Homo sapiens: one gene and its partners. The gene in region 1 interacts genetically with each later gene. Each region holds a gene or a part of one and is shown in the gene's direction. Other genes may lie near its edges. The genes, in order: UBA2, NSMCE1 and LIAS.

Evidence for each region.
Region 2: changes in UBA2 (region 1) and NSMCE1 together harm fitness more than expected from each alone (negative genetic interaction), as found in Homo sapiens cells (one large-scale study listed by BioGRID).
Region 3: changes in UBA2 (region 1) and LIAS together harm fitness less than expected from each alone (positive genetic interaction), as found in Homo sapiens cells (one large-scale study listed by BioGRID).

Annotation. Positions count from the first base shown.
Region 1 is NC_000019.10:34,434,846-34,438,497, forward strand, and holds part of UBA2 (SUMO-activating enzyme subunit 2), read left to right. Parts: intron 1-22; coding exon 23-123; intron 124-3,652. UniProt on the Homo sapiens protein: The heterodimer acts as an E1 ligase for SUMO1, SUMO2, SUMO3, and probably SUMO4. It mediates ATP-dependent activation of SUMO proteins followed by formation of a thioester bond between a SUMO protein and a conserved active site cysteine residue on UBA2/SAE2.
Region 2 is NC_000016.10:27,262,211-27,265,862, reverse strand, and holds part of NSMCE1 (non-structural maintenance of chromosomes element 1 homolog), read left to right. Parts: intron 1-3,652. UniProt on the Homo sapiens protein: RING-type zinc finger-containing E3 ubiquitin ligase that assembles with melanoma antigen protein (MAGE) to catalyze the direct transfer of ubiquitin from E2 ubiquitin-conjugating enzyme to a specific substrate.
Region 3 is NC_000004.12:39,476,035-39,479,786, forward strand, and holds the end of LIAS (lipoyl synthase, mitochondrial isoform 1 precursor), read left to right. Parts: intron 1-1,028; coding exon 1,029-1,081; 3' UTR 1,082-3,472; downstream 3,473-3,752. UniProt on the Homo sapiens protein: Catalyzes the radical-mediated insertion of two sulfur atoms into the C-6 and C-8 positions of the octanoyl moiety bound to the lipoyl domains of lipoate-dependent enzymes, thereby converting the octanoylated domains into lipoylated derivatives.

The DNA of each region.
Region 1 (3,652 bases):
ATACTGTTTGTTTTACTTCCAGCTGCCCGAAACCATGTTAATAGAATGTGCCTGGCAGCTGATGTTCCTCTTATTGAAAGTGGAACAGCTGGGTATCTTGGACAAGTAACTACTATCAAAAAGGTAAAGAAAAGTTTTATTTTTTTAACTTCCCAAATATTTATTTGAGACCTTGGAGCAGGAGGAAATAAACTTTGTATTTATATAAAATGAACAGGTGAACATCCAAAATGTAAGGACTTTTATGCTTATATAAAACTTAAAATGCGGGGCCAGGTGCAGTGGCTCATACCTGTAATCCCAGCACTTCGGGAGGCCGAGGTGGGCGGATCACCTGAGGTCAGGAGTTTGAGACCAGCCTGGCAAGCATGGTGAAACCCCATCTCTACTAAAAATACAAAAATTAGCTGGACATGGTGGCCGGCGCCTGTAATCCCAGCTACTTGGGAGGCTGAGCCAGGCGAATCACTTGAACCTGAGAGGCAGAGGTTGCAGTAAGCTGAGATTGCACCACTGCCCTCCAGCCTGGGCTACAGATCAAGCCTCTGTCTCAAAAAACAAACTTAAAATGCTATAAACGTGCTCAAAAGACTATGGGCAAGGAAATCTTTCAGCTCTGCCATTTTGTTTCATTTGACTTTTGTATTAAAATCCTTAGAGTGGTAAGCATGATATACCAGGCATCAAAAATTTCTTTGTGTCGGCTGCGTGCAGTGGCTCATGCCTGTAATCCCAGCACTTTGGGAGGCTGAGGTAGGCAGATGACTTGAGGTCAGGAGTTCGAGACCAGCCTCTCCAATGTAGTGAAACCACGTCTCTACAAAAAATACAAAAATTAGCTGGGTGTGGAGGCGTGTACCTGTAATCCCAGCTAGTTGGGAGACTGAAGCATGAGAATTGCTTGAACCTCGGAGGTGGAGGTTACAGTGAGCCAAGATGGCACCACACTCCAGCCTGGGCAACAGAGTGAGACTCCATCTCAAAAAAAAAAAGCCAGGCGTGATGGCTCATGCCTGTAATCCCAGCACTTTTTGGGAACCCGAAGCGAGCGGATCACCTGAGGTCAGGATTTTGAGACCAGCCTGTCCAACATGGTGAAACCCTGTCTCTACTAAAAATACAAAAATCAGCGGGCGTGGTGGTGTGCACCTGTAATCCCAGCTACTTGGGAGGCTGAGGCAGGAGAATCCCTTGAACCGGGGAAGCGGAGGTTGCGGTGAGCTGAGATCACGCCATTGCACTCCAGCCTGGGCAACGAGCGAAACTCTGTCTCAAAAAAAAAAAAACCAAAAAATTCTGTTGTCTAAGAGTCTGGGCTTATAATGTGGAAGGGAACTTTGAAAACTTTTTAGGGGTGTATTTGTGAAGTACTTCAAACATTTAAATACAACTAGAGAATAATAGAACAAAATACCTGTGTGCTCATACCTCAGTTTTGTTTTGGTTTATTTATTTATTTGTTTATTTTTTTGAGACAGAATTTCGCTCTTGTTGCCCAGGCTGCAGTGCAGTGGCGCGATCTCAGCTCGCCGCAACCTCCGTCTCCCTGGTTCAAGCGATTCTCCTGCCTCAGTCTCCCGAGTAGCTGGGATTACAGGCGTGCGCCACCACGCCTGGCTAATTTTGTATTTTTAGTAGAGACGGGGTTTCTCTATGTTGGTCAGGCTGGTCTTCAACTCCTGACCTCAGGTGATCCACCTGCCTCGGCCTCCCAAAGTGCTGGGATTATAGGTGTGAGCCGCCATGCCTGGCACATATCTCAGTTTTTAAAACCTCAACACGGCTTCATTTGCTATTCAGATATTTTTTCTTTCAGTTCTTTTAAGAAGTTAAATATTGTAGTTACATTTGAAGAGTCGTTTTCCATGTTTTGAAACTATAGAAAGAGAATTATAATGTACTTAACATTTGCTGGTTGCGTCTAATTTTTTTTGGCAGCTTATTCATGTTAGAAATTGTGTCTTTGTTTCTTTTAACTGTTAAATGTTATTCTTGGAACCTTATTGAATACCATTCTACAAAAGACTGTTGTGTATGTCAGTGCGTATTAAGTTGTTGAATAAGTGGAGGCCTTCAGTATCTGTTGACAGATCAAGACGGAAGTTCTCTGTCTGCATTGCAGTATGAGTCTCATGACTGCTTGCCATGTGGCTACCCTCAAGAAAGCATATTGGAAGGCTGAGGGCATCAGAAATGGTGTTTCAGAGAAAACTCTAAATCTGCTGCAATTTATATTAAAACAGTATTTGAGAGTTTTGATTCTTGAACAATTAGCCTGGCTAATTTTTGCATTTTTGGTAGAGATGAGGTTTTGCCATGTTAGCCAGGCTGGTCTCAAACTCCTGACCTCAGGTGATCCGCCTGCCTTGGCCTCCCAAAGTGCTGGGATTACAGGTATGAGCCACCACGCCCGGCCAGACATTGCTTTTTATATCCTTGTTACTGTGATTCTGACACACCACTGTGTATTAAGACTGAAGGTGGCTGGGCATGGTGGCTTACGCCTGTAATCCCAGCACTTTGGGAGGCCAAGGCGGGCGGATCACCTGAGGTAAGGAGTTCGAGACCAGCCTGGCCAACATGGTGAAACCCCATCTCTACTAAAAATACAAAATTTAGCTGGGTGTGGTGGCACGCACCTGTAATCCCAGCTACTTGGGAGGCTGAGGCAAAAGAATCACTTGAACCCGGGAGGCAGAGGTTGTGGTGAGCCTAGATCACGCCATTGCACTCCAACCTGGGCAACGAGCGAAATTCCGTCTCAGACAAAAAGAAAAAAAGAAGAGACTGAGGTTAGGAATATCTGAGATAATGAAAGATGATTCATTTGATAGTTTTGAAAAGTTGTCTCAGGTGTCATGTACTTCTTCCAAGGCATAAATTCCTTAAATTGTAATTTTAAACTTGAATGTGTATCAATAAAATGGGCTGGGCGCAGTGGCTCACGCCTGTAATCCCAGCACTTTTGGGAAGCCAAGGCGGGCGAATCACATGAAGTCAGGAGTTCAAGACCAAGCTGGCCAACATGGAAAAACCCCGTCTCTACTAAAAATATGAAAATTAGCTGGGAGTGGTGGGAGATGCCTGTAATCCCAGCTCTTTGGGAGCCTGAGGCAGGAGAATTGCTTGAACCTGGGAGGCGGAGATTGCAGCCAAGATTATGCCACTGTACTCCAGCCAGGGTGACAGAGCAAGACTCCGTCTCCCCACCGCCAAAAAGAAACGTATATCAATAAAATGAAGAGTATTTGGTTTAGTAACACCTAAGATTTTTCTGTGTAGGGAGATATATCTTGAAATTAATCTTGTAGTTTACTTAATTTCAGGAGATTATAAGGATATGGCTGTATTCCCCAGACCCACTTAGTTTTGCTCAAAAAAAAAAAAAAAACACATATAAGAAAATGGCTGCGAATAATATTTAGATAACATTTACAACTTTGAGAAATAATTTCTTGGAAAGCTGCTGTTTGTCTTTCCAGTAGTTTTTCTGTTTAGTGTGATCAAGGTAAACTCATATTTGACACTCAGGTGTAGTAATTTTTATTTGGGCTTGTAAGTCATGTTCACTGAACCAGGAGTCGGCGTCCTGGCACAGCCTTAGCTATGACTGGTAGATTCAGTTAGCTTTTGTGTTAGTTTATCATAAAGT
Region 2 (3,652 bases), on another chromosome or scaffold:
GTATGTGTGTATTTCTAATGAATGAATGTATGCTTTTGCTGAGTTTTCGATTTTATGTAATAGGATCCTAAAATATATTTTGTGTGACTTGCTTGTTGCACTTAACATTATCTTTCTGAGAAGTATGCGTGTTGATGTGAGGAGCTCTACTTTGTCTTCATTGCTGATTTGAATTCTATGGGATGATTATATTGTTTTAATGTAGTTCTTCAGTTGGTAGGCATTTATACTGTTGCCAGACTTTTGTTATTACAAGGTGCTTCTGTAAAAACATATCTCCTAGGGCAAATGTGGAAGTTTCTGTAAGGTATATACCTAATAGTAGATTTCGGGGGATATGCAAATTTGCTAGTAATATCAACTGTTATCTGAAATGGTTACAATAATTTATACTCAGCCTGGAGTGGTGGCTCACACCTGTAATCCCAGCACTTTGGGAGGCTGAGGTGGGTGGATCGCTTGAGTCCAGGAGTATGAGACCAGCTGGGGCAACAGGTGAGACCCCATCTCTACAAAAAATACAGAAATTAGCCGGGCATAGTGGTGTGTGCCTGTAGTCATAGCTGCTAGGGGGTTCTGAGGTCAGAGGATCGATTGAGCCCACAAGGTCAAGGCTGCAGTGAGCTATGACTGTGTCACTTCATTCCAGCCTGGGCAACAGAGTGAGACCCTGTCTCAAAAAAAAAAAAAAAAAAAAAAAAGGAAAAGAATTTATACTCTCCCAGCAGCAGATGAAAGTTTCAGCCTCAGCCATTCTTTTAAAATTTTTGCCTGTCTGGTGGTGGCTAAGACATTCCTTCACTGTGGTTTTCATAATCATTTGTCTGATAACATTGAGATTGAGCATCTTTTTTCTGTATTTATTCATCATTTATGCATCCTCTTTTTGTAAAATTTCTGTTGCCCATTTCTCTTTTACAGTTGTGTTTCCCATGCTGATTTGTAGGAATTCCTTATATAGTCTGAATATGAATCTTTTGTATTTTGTAGCTTATGTTTGTTTTAAATGCCCTCCAGTTTGTATCCCCTAACCCCCACCTTTCTGGTATTTTTGGTGAATAGAGGCCCTTAATTTTAACAAAAGTCAAGTTTATCAGTATATTCCTTTATGACCTGTACTTTTTATATCTCTTAAAGAAATCCTTCCCTACCCTTAGGTGATAAATATATTCTCTATATTGCCTAAAAGTCTTACAGTATTTTTCCTTATTATGACCTTATCCCTTCAGAATTGATGTTTGTATATAGTATGAGGTAAGAATCAAATTTTATTCATTTTTTTACATATGGATAACAAGTTTTCCTGGCACCTTTTATTGGAAAGTTTGCTTTCATCCGCCATCAAGTATCCATATATGTATACCTTTCCGTTTCTGAGTTCTCTGTTCTGTTCCATTGATTGGTCTTATTTGTCTATCTCTGTACCATTACCACACTGTACTCGTTACTCTAGCTTTATAAGAAGTGCTTTTTTTGTTTTGGTTTGTTTTTAGACAGGATCTTACTCTGTCATCCTGGCTGGAATGCAGTGGTGCAATCATGACTCACTGTAGCCTCGACATCCCGAGCTGAAGCAGTCCTCCCACCTCAGTATCATGAGTACCTGGGACTACAGGTGCATACCATCATGCCCAGCGATTTTTTTTTTAATTTTTGTTTTTAGTAGAGACAAGGTTTCACCACATTGCCCAGGCTGGTGTTGAACTCTTGGGCTCAAGCAATCTGCCCACGTCAGCCTCCCAAAGTGCTGGGATTACAGGCATGAGCCATCGCGCCCAGCAAATATGAGAAGTCTTTATAGCTGGTAGGACAAGTCCTTCTGCCTTTATTTTCTCCCAGGAATGTCTTTGCTGTTTTGCCTTTGTGTTTTCTATGTAAATTTTTAGAATCATCTTGTCAAATCACACACACACATACACAAAGCCTCTTGGGATGCTGACTGTAATAGCATTGATTCAATTGCATTGGGTCAATTTGGTTTTTAAAGTGATTGCTGCCAACATTTCATTTTTCAGTATGATGTTTGCTGCAGGTTTTTTGTAGACGTCACTTAGTAGATAAAAGATGTTTTCTTCGATTCCAAATTTGTTTTTGGTGTAGGTACATGTTGAATTTTATCAATTGTATATTCTGCATCATTAAGATGATCATATGCTTTTTTAAAAAAACTTAGGTTTGGCAGCACACGTGAAGGTTTATTAGATAGGTAAACTCACGTCATAGGGGTTTGTTGTACAGCTTTTTTAATCAGCCAAGAATTAAGTCCAGTACCCGATAGTTATATTTTCTGCTCTTCTTCCTCCTCCCACCCTCCATCCTCAAATAGACCCCAGTGTCTGTTGTTTCCTTCCTTGTGTTCATAAGTTTTCATCATTTAACTCCCACTTATAAGTGAGAACATGTGGTATTTGGTTTTCTATTCCTGTGTTAGCTTGCAGAGGATAATAGTCTCCAGTTTCATCCATGTTCCTGCAAAAGACATCATCTCATTCTTCTTTATGGCTGCATAGTGTTCCACGGTGTATAGGTACCACATTTTCTTTATCCAGTCTGTCATTGATGGGCATTTAGGTTGATTCCATGTCTTTGCTTCTGTGAATGGGGCTGCAGTGAACATTCCCGTGCATGTGTCTTTATGGTAGAATATTTCTGTTCCTCTGGTATATACCCAGGAATGGGGTTGCTGGGTCAAATGGTAGTTCTGCTTTTAGCTCTTTGAGGAATTGCCACACTGCTTTCTACAGTGGTTTAACTAATTTACACTCCCTCCAACAGTATATAAGTTTCCCTTTTCTCTGCAACCTTGCCAGCATCTGTTATTTTTTGACATTTTGATAATAGCCATTCTGACTGATGTGAGATGGTATCTCATTGTGGTTTTGATTTGCATTTCTCTAATGATCAGTGATACTGAGCTTTTTTTTCATATGCTTGTTGACCACATGTATGTCTTCTTTTTGAAAAATGTTGGTTCATGTCCTTTGCCCAGTTTTTAATGGGGTTGTTTGATTTTCTCTCGTAAATAGTTTGCAAATATTTTCTCCCATTCTGTAGGTTGTCTGTTTACTCTGTTGATAGTTTCTTTTGCTGTGCAGAAGCTCTTAAGTTTAATTAGATCTCATTTGTCAATTTCTGCTTTCATTGTGATTGCTTTTGGTGTCTTTGTCGTGAGATCTTTGCCCGTTCCTGTGTCCAGGATGGTATTGCCTAGGTTGTCTTCCAGGGATTTTATAGTTTTAGGTCTTACATTTAAGTCTTTAATCCATCTTGAATTGATTCCTGTATGTGCTGTAAGGAAGGGGTCCAGCCTCAGTCTTCACATATGGCTAGCCACTTATACTAGCACCATTTATTGAATAGGGAGTCTTTTTCCCATTGCTTCTTTTTGTCATCTTTGTCAAGGATCAGGTGGTCATAGGTGTATGGCCTTAATTTTGGGCTCTCTATTCTGTTCCATTGGTGTATGTGCCTGTTTCTGTACCAGCACCATGCTGTTTAGCCCTGTAGTGTAGTTTGAAGTCGGGTAACGTGATGCCTCCAGCTTTGTTCTTTTTGCTTAGGATTGCTTTCGCTATTCAGGCTCTGTTTTGGTTCCATGTGATTTTTTTTTTTTTTTTTTGAGATGAAGTCTCACTCTGTTGCTCAGGCTGGA
Region 3 (3,752 bases), on another chromosome or scaffold:
TGGCAAGCTAAAAATACATGTGAAGGATAGAACCACTATCAGCTTCTAGAATGGTTAGAGTAATGTCCTTTGAAAGGAGTTTTTCTTTTGCTAAAGAAAAATTTCTAACATAAAAGGAAGTAAATTATGAACTTTCTGATGCTTTCTAAATTACCAGGAAAAGATCAGATTCTGGTATATGATGAGCATTAGACTAAAATGATGGATTAGGGTCTGATAAAGTTGGTGCTACTCCCACGACATTTGGAGGAGGTATGGAGCAGCATGGATTACTTGGCTGGGTTATGAGCCTTGGGATTTGCAGAGATTATATGTAGATAGACTCATCACAGTTCTACTCATATGTAAGATGACAAAGAGAAGTTAATCAGACTCCTCATAAAATCAGGCCTCTAGTGCTGCACTCTACCAATAAGCATTGAGTCATGCTGTAAGAGCAATAGACTAAATGGAACACTAATGGCCTAAAAAGAGAATGTGCCCTCTAAGCTGCTAACTTATTGCGTAGGCACAACTCAGGCGGTGGGGAGAAAGCCCATTACAAATGAAGAGCTCTTGCTTCCCTAGAGGGGAATAAGCTAAAGAGATTCCATCAGATGCGTCTGCTCAGCTGCAACGAGATCTGTTTTATAAACATCAGATCCAGCCTAATAATGTAGCAAAATTGCTCTTGGAAATGAATTTTGCCAAGAGCAATACTTTGACAGTGATGAGGGATAGATAGTGCACATAAAGTAGAATTAATGTGCAGACCCATATATACAGTAGGGTCACCCTTTGTAATATTGGCTTACTAGAAAGAATAATAGTAGGAGACTCTAGTCATTATTGCTGGGGAGAAAGGCCAAAGATAATAGGGGATATTTAGGTTAGAAAAATATTGCCATTGAGGTTTGAGAAGAGAGAAGTGCCAATAAATACAAAAGTCTTCTTTAAAGGGGGAACACCAAAAATATAATTCTGAAATAGTTGTCTCACTGTTATTTACTTTAAATTGATATTAATGTGTTTTCCTTTTTCCTAAATAGGTGAATTTTTCCTGAAAAATCTAGTGGCTAAAAGAAAAACAAAAGACCTCTAAAACTTCAACAAGACCTTCAAGATCACAGAAATTTTTAAAATTTGATTCCAGTTAATAACAGAGGTGGTGCCAGAATGCCTGGACTGCAGTGGATGTGCCCCACCTCTTTGCTTAAAAAAAAAAATGTCAATAGCCAGGCATAGTGGCTCACGCCTGTAATCCCAGCACTTTAGGAGGCCAAGGCGGGTGGATCACCTGAGGTCAGGAGTTCGAGACCAGCCTGGCCAACATGGTGAAATCCTGTCTCCACTAAAAACACAAAAATTAGTCAGGCGTGGTAGTGGGTGCCTGTAATCCCAGCTACTCGGGAGGCTAAGGCAGGAGAATCACTTGAACCTGGGAGGGGGAGGTTGCAGTGAGCCAAGATCGCTCCATTGCCCTCCAGCCTGGGTGACAAGAGCAAAACTCCATCTCAAATAAATAAAAAGGAAAAAAAAGTCAATAAACTGTACAAATTTAATTACAGTAATTCATTTGGCTTTTAGTGTATCTTCTTTGTCCCAATTAAACAGTTGCTTGCTGTGATGTAATCTTAAAATATCTTTGTAAGAATTTTCTTTTAACATAATTTTAAAATGCATTAAAAACATGGCATGGTGGCTCACACCTATAATCCCAACATTTTGGGAGGCCAGGGCGGGTGGATCACTTGAACCCAGGAGTTCGAGACCAGCCTGGGCAACATGATGAGACCTTATCTCTACAAAAAATTAGCCAGACGTGGTGGCACGCACCCGTAGTCCCAGCTACTCAGGCTGAGGTGAGAGGATCACTTGAACCTGGAAAGCAGAGGTTGCAATGAGCTGAGGTGGTGCCACTGCTCTCCAGCCTGGGCGCTACAACTGCTCTCCAGACTCTGTCTTGAAAAAAAAACCCAAAAACTTCCAGAAGATTTTCCAATCCACTGTTAACATCATTACATTTCATTTATGAAAAATAAAAACTTCATTTATGTTACTGTGATGAAACAGTCAACATAGATTGAAACTCATCAGTTTAGCATTTCATTCAACTTTAGCATTCATTCAACGTAGATTGAAACTCATCAGATTAGCATTTGTCCTTGTAATATTGGAATAATTTAGAAAGGCTTAAGAGTGAATGTTGGCCAGATGTGGTGGCTCATGCCTGTAATTCCAGCACTCTGAGAGGCCGAGGTGGGCAGATCACCTGAGGTCGGGAGTTTGAGAACAGCCTGGCCAACCTGGTGAAACTCCATTGCTACTAAAAATAAAAAAATTAGCTAGGTGTGTTGGCAGGTGCCTGTAATCCCAGCTACTTGGGAGGCTGAGGCACGAGAATTACTTGAGCCTGTGAAGCAGAGATTGCAGTGAGGCGATATCGTGCCACTGCACTCCAGCCCGGGCAACAGAGTGAGACTGTCTCAAAAAAAAAGTAAATGTTGATTTTTTACATTGGTGTGACTACTTCAGAACCTGCAAAATAGTTTTATGCTGATTACATTTAGTCCCTCTGAAAACACCAAGGCCATAATGCTGCCTAAGACATGGAAATAGAACCTAGAAATATTAACCCTTATTTGTATAGTAGCTTGCTAAATCCACATGCCCTATTCCTTTCATTTCTCACATTGGTTGTATTATATGATGGTAAAGGCCTGAGAAAGGAATTTCCTTCCAAAATACTAATAACTCAGATTCATCTTTTGACTGAATCCTGCCTTTCTACTTTTTCTGCATATCTAAAAGGACACTTTTAGGTGGCCATGTTGTAAAATATGTAAAGTGGATAGCCAATTCTGTTTTGAATTCTTATAACGAGCCAGTATTATAAAAGTAATGCACATCCTTGCCAGGTGTGGTGGCTCACGCCTGTAATCCCACCACCTTGGGAGGCTGAGGCGGGTGAATCAGTTGAGCTCAGGAGTTTGAGACTAGCCTGGGCAACACAGTCAGACCCCCATCTCTACCAAAAATACAAAAAATTAGCTGGGTGTGGTGGCACATGCTTGTAATCTCAGCTATTTGGGAGGCTGAGGCAGGAGAATCACTTGAACCTGACAGGCAGAGGTTGCAGTGAGCTGAGATCACATCACTGTACTCCAGCCTGGGTGACAGAGACCGTGTCTCAAAAAAAATTTTTTTAAGTAATGCATGGGCCGGGCATGGTGGCTTAATGCCTGTAATTCCAACGTTTTGGGAGGCCGAGGCAGGTGGATCACCTGAGGTCAGGAGTTTGAGACCAGCCTGAACAACATGGTGAAACACTGTCTCTACTAAAAATTAAAAAATTAGCCAAGTGTGGTGGCGCATGTCTGTAATCCCAGCTACTCAGGAGGCTGAGACAGGAGAATCCTTGAACCTGGGAGGCAGAGGTTGCAGTGAGCTGAGATCACACCATTGCACTCCAGCCTGGACAACGAGTGAAACTCCTCAAAAAAAAAAAAAAAAAAAAGTAATGTATGTCTTTATAGATGCTAGTAAATTTTGGGATGCAAATTTAACCCTACCAACTTTCTTTTGTTTTGAGACAGTCTCACTCTGTCAGGCTAGAGTGCAGTGGCGCGATCTCAACTCACTGCAACCTCTGCCTCCTGGGTTCAAGTGATCCTCCTGCGTCAGCCTCCCAAGTAGCTGGGATTACAGGCGCACACCATCACGCCCAGCTAATTTTTGTATTTTTAGTAGAGATGGGGTTTTGCCGTGTTGGC